Linked DNA regions of Homo sapiens: region 2 is linked to region 1. The links come from fine-mapping of genetic effects on gene expression. A gene starts in region 1. The other region holds a variant in brackets. All regions are shown on one strand. Distances are from middle to middle. Region 1 holds the start of CSNK2A1 (casein kinase 2 alpha 1). Region 2 overlaps CSNK2A1 (casein kinase 2 alpha 1).

Evidence for each region.
Region 2: its variant is fine-mapped to the expression of CSNK2A1 in whole blood (TOPMed, PIP above 0.99).

What each region holds. Positions count from the first base shown.
Region 1 is chr20:541,984-546,377 of GRCh38, reverse strand. It overlaps CSNK2A1 (casein kinase 2 alpha 1), which reads left to right and starts at 2,588. Exons shown (of 14, transcript NM_177559.3): 1 at 2,588-2,706. RefSeq lists enhancers at 2,123-2,182, 2,293-2,342, 2,453-2,532, 2,553-2,702, 2,188-2,881 and 1 more and a silencer at 3,023-3,082.
Region 2 is chr20:478,873-483,266 of GRCh38, reverse strand. It overlaps CSNK2A1 (casein kinase 2 alpha 1), which reads left to right. Exons shown (of 14, transcript NM_177559.3): 14 at 1-4,394. Among named protein-coding and RNA genes, the nearest start is that of TBC1D20, 19 kb to the right of the region's middle. The variant A/G (reference allele first, on the strand shown) is at 1,856.

The DNA of each region.
Region 1 (4,394 bases):
TTTGGTTTCTACCTCATCAGGTTGACATGAGGATTAAGTGAGATGATGAACATTCAGTGTGTGGCACAGTGCAAGTACTCTCAACATCTTAACTCTTGCTTCTGCTGCTGTTGTTTGCAGAAAGACTAGCCTGAGAGGTGTGATGTGGGGGATCAGAGACAGTAAGAGTTAAGGATAAATGTTAAGTCTACAACTAGGTGAACACTTGGGATGGGAAGCCTCTTGAGACCGGAGACCTACATGAGGCTGGCGTAGTAGACGGCAGGAGTTGGGTTTCAATTATGTCCTGCATGAGTATGAGGGTTGTATATGTGTGCCCAGGTGAGCCCTCTGAATGAAGTCATGGATAGAGGCCAGAACTAGGAAGAAGAATGAAGAACTAATGCTGTGAGAGAGGCTGAGATTGGAAAGGCATGAAGGCTAAGCAATGGGAAATATCCTCACTACACTCAGATGAAAACCCAGCTTCCTTATCATGACCTGAATGCCCTGCCCACCTCTCCCACCATATTTCTTCCTCTTCTTCCCTTTATTTGCAGTGCTTCAGCCACCATGGCCTCCTTCTTCAAACTTGTGATGCTCTTTCCTGCCTTGGGACGTTTGCACTTACTGTTTCCTTCTCAAAGGGACCTTCTGAACCACTCAAGCTAAAGCTCTATACTTCACAGCTACTTATCTTTTCCTTTCGTAGCACTTATTGCTACCTGAAATTACTTTGTTTATGCATTTGTTTACCTGTGCATTACTTGCTTCTCACTTTAGAAGGTAAGCTCCACCAGTGAGCAACTGGTGTATGTCTTCCTCATAACACATCCCCAGTACCTAGCACAGTGTCTGGCTCATAGCAAATGATGAATTGTTGTGAGTTAAACAAATGTGAATACAGTTGGGAAAAACAAAGCCACAAGAGCCAAAAAGATACGTTCGAGAGGTAGGTAGAAGGGTATCATTTCCTGGAAGATGGCTTCCCAGAAACTTTGGGATTATCTTGTATAACCTCCTCAGTCCACAAGTGGGGAAATTGAGGCCCAGTTACAGGACACTGAGAGAAAAACTGTTGTGGGTTCCCAGGCAATTGGGATCAGATGTCACAAGCTGTCTAGCAGATGAGGTCCAGAGAAGGCCACAGCCACCTCCCTGAGGCCATCACTATAAGTCTGCAGCCACCACCAGCCCTAACCCCACATGGGGAAGAGGTGCCTCTTTGGGAGCAGAGGTGCTAGTCAGCTGACAAACTGTGAAGGCAGGGCTGTGGAGGGTGGAGAGGCCCATTCCTGAGACAACCAGCTATTCTGAGACAGTTAGGGATAATGGTTGGTACTGAAAGAACCTGGCCTCCTCACCCTCGTTCCAGTGCTCACACCTCTGTCCCACCAGAGGTGAGACTAATACTTGAACTCCTTTCAGCAACTCTTAGACGCTTCAGCTTTTATCAGGGCCTGCAAAGGAGAGGTTGATCATCAGATGGAGCCCTGTCCACTGGGGGCTCCCAGTCTGATGGAGGAGACAGACTGAGGTCCTCAGGTTACTGACTGATAGTGTCTGGGTTGGAGGGAGTTAAACAGAGAGGAGACCCCTAGAGGAAAGGATCCCTGAATTAGTTCAATCGGCATACAGAAATTATCCAGTCCATGAGGTGACAGTAAGAGAAGTAACTGCCAGTGTAAAGGGAGGGAGGCAACACAGCTAAGTTCCAGGAATTGTTTGCAGTCTTGTGGGTGGAATCTTCCGGAATTTGAGAAGAGAGTGGCAGAATAGGAGGCTGGAAAGGAGGGTTTGGCCAAATTATGGAGGACTCTGAATGTCAAGTGAAGAGTTTGGGCTATCTTTGGTGCATAAAGAGGTCCATGGGAGATTTTTGACCATAGGGAGACCATGATGAGCTCTGCATGGTAGAAAGTGCTTTGTGGCTGTTTTGGGGAGGTAGCTCGGGCAAGGAGAGCAGGGGTGGGAGGCAGATAGAAGGAAAAAAAAACACTGTATTTTGGACGCACAGCTCTTGGCAGGACTCCTGTAGGAGGAAGGAATTGGGCCTTGGTCTCTTGAGAGCTAGTATCCTCACTTCTCAGACTCCTGCGCCATGCCCTTCCTAGGGTCCAACTTTCATTCACTTCTTCCGAACTCCAAGTTTGAATAGAAAGTGTTGCTGAAACCCTAATTTAAAACGAGGGGTCAGAGCAAAAGAGACTTCAGCTCCCAGAATGCTTGGCTCTACAGCTCTGCAGGTCGCGCATGGTTCTTTTCAAGAAAGGGGGGCCAGCTGGGTGAAGTGTGGGAAACCTGGGTACCGCCATCTTAACTTGGGTCAAACCAACTGTTCACCTAATGGGAGGTTCGTGTTCTCTCTGTTGTCACTTGTTAACACTATTGAAATAAAATGCGCTTAACTATTGCAAGTCTCCTTATTCTGCTTTGCGTTGGGGATTCCTTCCATTTTGCACCCTAGGCCAGAACTGAATCCCTAAGGTTACAATAGGACATCCCAGCATGGCCGCATTCAGAGAGATTCCTCTGGGGGCGGAGTCGGAAGCTGTCTCGCCCCGCCTCCTGGTAGGAGGGGGTTTCCGCTTCCGGCAGCAGCGGCTGCAGCCTCGCTCTGGTCCCTGCGGCTGGCGGCCGAGCCGTGTGTCTCCTCCTCCATCGCCGCCATATTGTCTGTGTGAGCAGAGGGGAGAGCGGCCGCCGCCGCTGCCGCTTCCACCACAGGTACCTAGGGAGCAGCCAGGCGAGGTCGTTGGCGGGTGGGGTGGGCCCAGGATAGGGCAGCGGAGCGCGGCCGACCCTCACGCTTCCAGCAGACTCCTGAGCGGCCCGTCGCCTTCCCCTGCCCCCACCTTCACACATAAACCAAGCGAGGCCCCTGCAGCCCATCGGGGAGGCCCAGGGGCCACCCCTCAGGGCGGAGGGCGAGGTTTGGGGGCAGAGGCCGATGTGAGGGTGGGAACCGGCTGCCGGAGTCCAGCTTATTGCAGAGGAGAGGACTGAACTGGGTGGGGACTAGGGGACAACTTGGAGGAGGGGGTCGTCAGAGGGGGAAGGGAACTTGAGGGGTGGGGCCGCAGGGGGGTGCTGGGGGAGGGTGCGGAGGGAGTGGTGCCTGCTGGGTAGTGTGCAGTGAACCCTCCCGCGAAACTGGGCAGCTGGAGTAGGGGCCTTCTTAGGGTCCCTCTGGGCGGGGCTGAGCTTCCCACCTGCAGAGTGGGTGCGAGGTGGAGAGAACCCCAGGCGGGGTTGCTGGGGCGAAAGGGGGAAGGGACCAAGACGTGGGGCAGAACGTCTGGAGTTGGAGTTAAGGACTAGTTAGGAGCCTGGATAGAAAAAGAGGTATGGAGAGAAAGCTTGGCTAAGGGTATACATATGTTGGTGACCTTTTGAAAGAGTAGGACTTTTCAATTTTGTTTTTCGTTGTGTGTTTTTTGCAGTGTTGGAACATTGCTAGATTAAGCAGGTGATGGGTGGAGCTTCTGTAGTTTGTTTTGGGGAAGCAGAGTCAGGGTCAGGAGAAGTTGCATCTTGGCTATTGCTTTGTGTGGAGGAAAGAGTTTTGAAAAGAAGGTGGCAAATTATTTGGGAAGACTTGATTACTTTTCAGCTGTTTAATTCTACGAGAATGGGACATGGGGAGAGGAAATGAAAACTAAGAAGAGAGGCCGGGCGTGTGGCTCACGCCTGTAATCCCAGCACTCTGGGAGGCCGAGGCGGGTGGATCACGAGGTCAGGAGTTCGAGACCAGCCTGACCAACACGGTGAAACCCCGTCTGTACTAAAAATGCAAATATCAGCCGGGCTTGGTGGCGCGCGCCTGTAATCCCAGCTACTCGGGAGGCTAAGGCAGGAGAATCGCTTGAACCTGGGAGGCGGAGGTGGCAGTGAGCTGAGATCCGCCACTGCACTCCAGCCTGGGCGACAGAGCGAGACTCCGCCTCAAAAAGAAAAAAGAAAACTAAGAAGGGAAGATTTTTCCAAGAATTGGAGACTTCATTCCATCTGAGGAGTGCAGTGTAGGCCCAGTGGTTAAAAACCAGACTGCCTAGGTTCTCAAATATCAGGGCCATTGCTACTTAGCTGTGTGACCTAAACTCTCTAAGCCTCAGTTTTCCCGTCTGTAAAAGGGGGATGATGGTATTTTCTAGCTTGTGAGTTTACGGAGAAGAGTAAATAAGACAATTTGTGTCAAGTGCTTACTACAGTGTCTGGCAGGTAGTAAGTGTAGTAAGTAGCTTTTACCTGTCACTGTAAAGGGACTAGCTGGTATATTTGGGGCTCTTCTGTTCTAAGTAAAATTTATAGTCAAGAATTTGACTGTAGACAGGGCTTTAGAGTAGTATCTTTGTAGTTGTTGTAGGGTTTTGTTGTAAGTCATTTGGCTTTACTGGCTTGGTGGACCTGGGGCT
Region 2 (4,394 bases), 63 kb after region 1:
ATCCAACTCATTTATACTTTTATTTTTAGTTCAGTTTAAAATGTTGATACCTTCCCTCCCAGGCTCCTTACCTTGGTCTTTTCCCTGTTCATCTCCCAACATGCTGTGCTCCATAGCTGGTAGGAGAGGGAAGGCAAAATCTTTCTTAGTTTTCTTTGTCTTGGCCATTTTGAATTCATTTAGTTACTGGGCATAACTTACTGCTTTTTACAAAAGAAACAAACATTGTCTGTACAGGTTTCATGCTAGAGCTAATGGGAGATGTGGCCACACTGACTTCCATTTTAAGCTTTCTACCTTCTTTTCCTCCGACCGTCCCCTTCCCTCACATGCCATCCAGTGAGAAGACCTGCTCCTCAGTCTTGTAAATGTATCTTGAGAGGTAGGAGCAGAGCCACTATCTCCATTGAAGCTGAAATGGTAGACCTGTAATTGTGGGAAAACTATAAACTCTCTTGTTACAGCCCCGCCACCCCTTGCTGTGTGTATATATATAATACTTTGTCCTTCATATGTGAAAGATCCAGTGTTGGAATTCTTTGGTGTAAATAAACGTTTGGTTTTATTTATCAAGGTTAGATTTAAGTTCCCTGTGTAAAGGTCTTGCTGGGTGGGTGTCTCATGTTCACATCTGAGGGGCCTGCAGCCCTGTACCGTGGAGGCTTCCCAAGGCCCCCATTTTATACACCCCTCGTTCGACCCATGGTACCGGGCAGAGCAGAGAGGCCTTAAAAAAAAAGCACCACAAGCCAAAGCGTCTCTGGGGATTAAGGATCCTTTGCCATAAAACTCATTTTGTGTCTCAGCAGTGCAGGGATTGGGGATGGAAAAAGTCGCCAGTTTTTGTGTGTTTGTGTGTGTGTGTAAAGTGGACTTTCCACTGTAATCCAACCACCTAAGTTTATCAGGTGCTTCACTGAGGAAGCCTAGTTTTTTAAGCACAATAGCAAAACCATCAGCTCTGTATTTTCTCCTGTTATTTCATTACAGTAGCTGCTTGTGGGAACTAGGAAAAATTCTTCCAACATATTTTAAGGCCTAAAATCTTAGTTCCCCATTCTCCTACCTTATAGATTCACAGGCCTTTCTCGCCTAGGCATCATAGATAAACGTAATTGTTTGGGGAGTTGAATTTAATGAACTTATCTAACTTTGTAACCCATCTTGGCTTTAGTAACTTTATCAAGGTGGTGGCTTTAGTGAATATAATGGTAAACTTTAGAGGACGCTAAAGCCTCCTTTTATAGCGCTTCTCAACGGTAGGGAGAGCTGAAGGGAAAACATTCTGACTGTGTGGCAGGGTGATTTTCTTCCTTATGACCACTTACAGTGGATATTTATTGTACTTGACCCTTTTATGCCCTAGAATGCTGTGAGGGTTACCATGTTGAATTTGTGCAGAAGCTAAAAGCACCAGATGTGCCAGAGATGCAATTTGTGATTATGTTTGCACTGGATTGTGATTTGAACAGGACACTTATAACTAATGAGTTCTTTCTTTTGAGGTGGGGAGAGGGTTGTAAATCAAGACTTCATACCCTATCCTTGTAGCTCGGAAATTGAGGTGTAGCTTAGGCTGATGCGGAGAGCTGCAGACAGCTGGACCTCCTTACACCCATCAGACCTTGGAATAAACCGAAGGTGAATGCAGAGGACTCTGAGGTGCCACCCAAGAGCCTTTTAAAATAAATAGAAGTTTTTAAAAATGCTACTTAAGAGTCACTGCAGAAGCATGGAGAGAGAGAAAAAAAAAAAAGACCCAATTGGGTGGGGGGTGGGGGGGAGGCAAGGGTTTACAGAGTAACAACTTACGTGTTGTTGTAAATTACCTCATCTGTATACCTTGTATTGGGAC[A/G]CTATTTCTCAGCACTACCTGTGTCTGCATTGCTTAGATGGCAGGAAATGGAATGGCCAACATGAAAGGTTATGTTGGCAATTACTCTGAAAGATTTTTTAAAGTATTTTTAAACTTTGTTTGAAGTGGTCCCTCCCCTCTTCCTCTGCTTTTTTTTAAGTTTGAAGCCAGAAGGCCCTCCCCACCTTGCTTTATTGGTTGTAATTGTATTGTAATTGGTATGACTAAACCATAACTGTGCTGGGAAGAAGTTGTGCCATGAAGGTCTTTAATTTTTTTTAATAAAAACATTTAAATAAATGAAATGTCCCTGCAGCCTGAGCAATATGCTTCTCCAACCGACACCGTGTGTGATAGATGGCTCCGTTTTCACGTTTTGAATTCTGTTTCTTGTACTTGAAATGCCTGTCCAGCTTACATAAGATAGATTAAATTGTTAGAGTGGGACTGTCAGAGGAATATATCTTGTAAAGTAGATCCTCAGGGTATGGCTAATTACTATAGTCCTAAAGTAGCAGAGAAAATTAGAGATTGGTTGACAGATTTGGGAATTTTAATTTCTTCTTAGTTTTTAACTTTCATCTTTGCTTCACCTTTTGACAAGTATGGTTATAATTAGAATTGACCATTTAAGCATCTCTTGAAAAACCTGATTTTGTCCCACCAGCAAATTCTCTCCCAAGACTGGAATTGGGTTTGCATAGTAGAGAGCCTGTCTTCCCAGGGCCTTTTCCTAGTTAAAGAAACACTTAACTAAAAAGGCTGTGTGGTAAGGTCATGCTCAGTTCCTTCCTCAAAAAATGAGTCTAAAATTGGTTTATCCTGAATCCGACTTCCCCCACTGTCATCACTTACCCTTGCCCTTCTTTTTCCTCAGAACACCTGAACTTTTGTTGTATTATTTTGTATCTCCCCACTTGCATGTAAACTCCCTGGTGACCTTGCATGTCTTATGCAATCCTCATTAAAACCTTTTGTTTTTTTTTTTAAGTGGGTTCGTTTTCCCTCAGGATCGAAGAGTATTGAATGGAATGGCACGAGGAAAATATTTAACACCCTACTTGGCTTGTAATAATAGGTGCTTAATAAATTGTAGTTCCACTCTCCACTCCATTGCCCCCTTTCTCTCCCTACACACACACACCCACCCACCCACACACACACACACACACACACAAAGTAAATGGAAGTATTGTTGCATAAAGAGCATCTCAAAATCCTAAGAACTTTGCCCTTGAGTTTGCAGCTATAATTACAAGCCACAGGCCAGACTGAACTAACATGACAAGTAACTTTATTTAATGAGACCCTGATAAATAGGTATCTGAAGACTAAGGAATGATCCTGGCCAATTTAGTAGACTTAGATGCTGCAGTCTCCCTGCTTTTCCCCTGCTGTATTACCTGTGTGTAATATAGGTTGAATATCCCCTATCCAAAATGGTTGGGACCAGAAGTGTTTTGAATTTTTTTGGATTTTTGGAATATTTGCGGAATACATACCAGTTCAATATTCCTAATCTGAAATTTGAAATATTCCAAATAGCATTTACTTTAGGCATCATGTTGATGCTTAAAAAATTTCAGATTTTTGAGGATTTTGTATTTTCAAATTAGAAATGCTCAACGTGTAATACGAAATTCAGACTATTCTCCAAGTAAAACATATGTAGATGGTGTCACAAGATGTTCTGGACTCAATCCTATGTAAATAAGTACTTCCTAGACTTTATAGCTCTCCTTTGATTCTGTGCTAAATTTAACCATTAGAGAAGCAATGTAATGTTACTGCAAGTGGTCTACCTCTAACAGAGTTCTGTCTGGCAGTGTGATTTTTTTGATCAGTTAACCTCTCTGAATCTTTTCTTCACAGGTGATTTAAATTGTTATTGTAAAACATTTTAGGCATGTACCAAATTATAAAGAAAGCTGTAACACATCCATAATCCTACCACCCAAGTTGAATTTCCATTGCCAATACAGACCAAGCCCCCTTTTTGCCCTTTTTTGGTGATACCCTCTTCTTCCTCCCTTCCCCAGAGGTCCCAATATTTCCTATCTGTTAAATTGGGGTATAAGTACTGATTTCATAGAGCGGTTGTTCAGATTCTATGACAGATGCCTGGTATATGGTAGAGTTACACCAAATGTTGGTTTCTCTTCTAAATTGTACAGTTGTGCAGACTATGTACAGTAAAAGGATGCTACATTATAGGGAGGCCATAGATGTTTGCATTTGGAAAATTTCTGACTCTTTTCCAGCAGGTGGCAGTAAAGTGTCTTTACTAGAAGAAAAAATATCCAAGCATTAAACATGACAGGTTTTCAACGGGTACAAGTCAAGTTTCTGATTGAATGAAGGCCAGCATTGCCTTGTTCCCACTCCCTCTATGGAAAGCCAGATATTTTGCACTGTAGCAAATTACAAACTGGATTTGTCTCCCTGTCGCTCTACTCACTAGAAGTTTTTTGTTTGTTTTGTTTTTTGATACGGGTCTTGCTCTGTTACCCAGGCTAGAGTGCAGTAGCGCCATCACAGC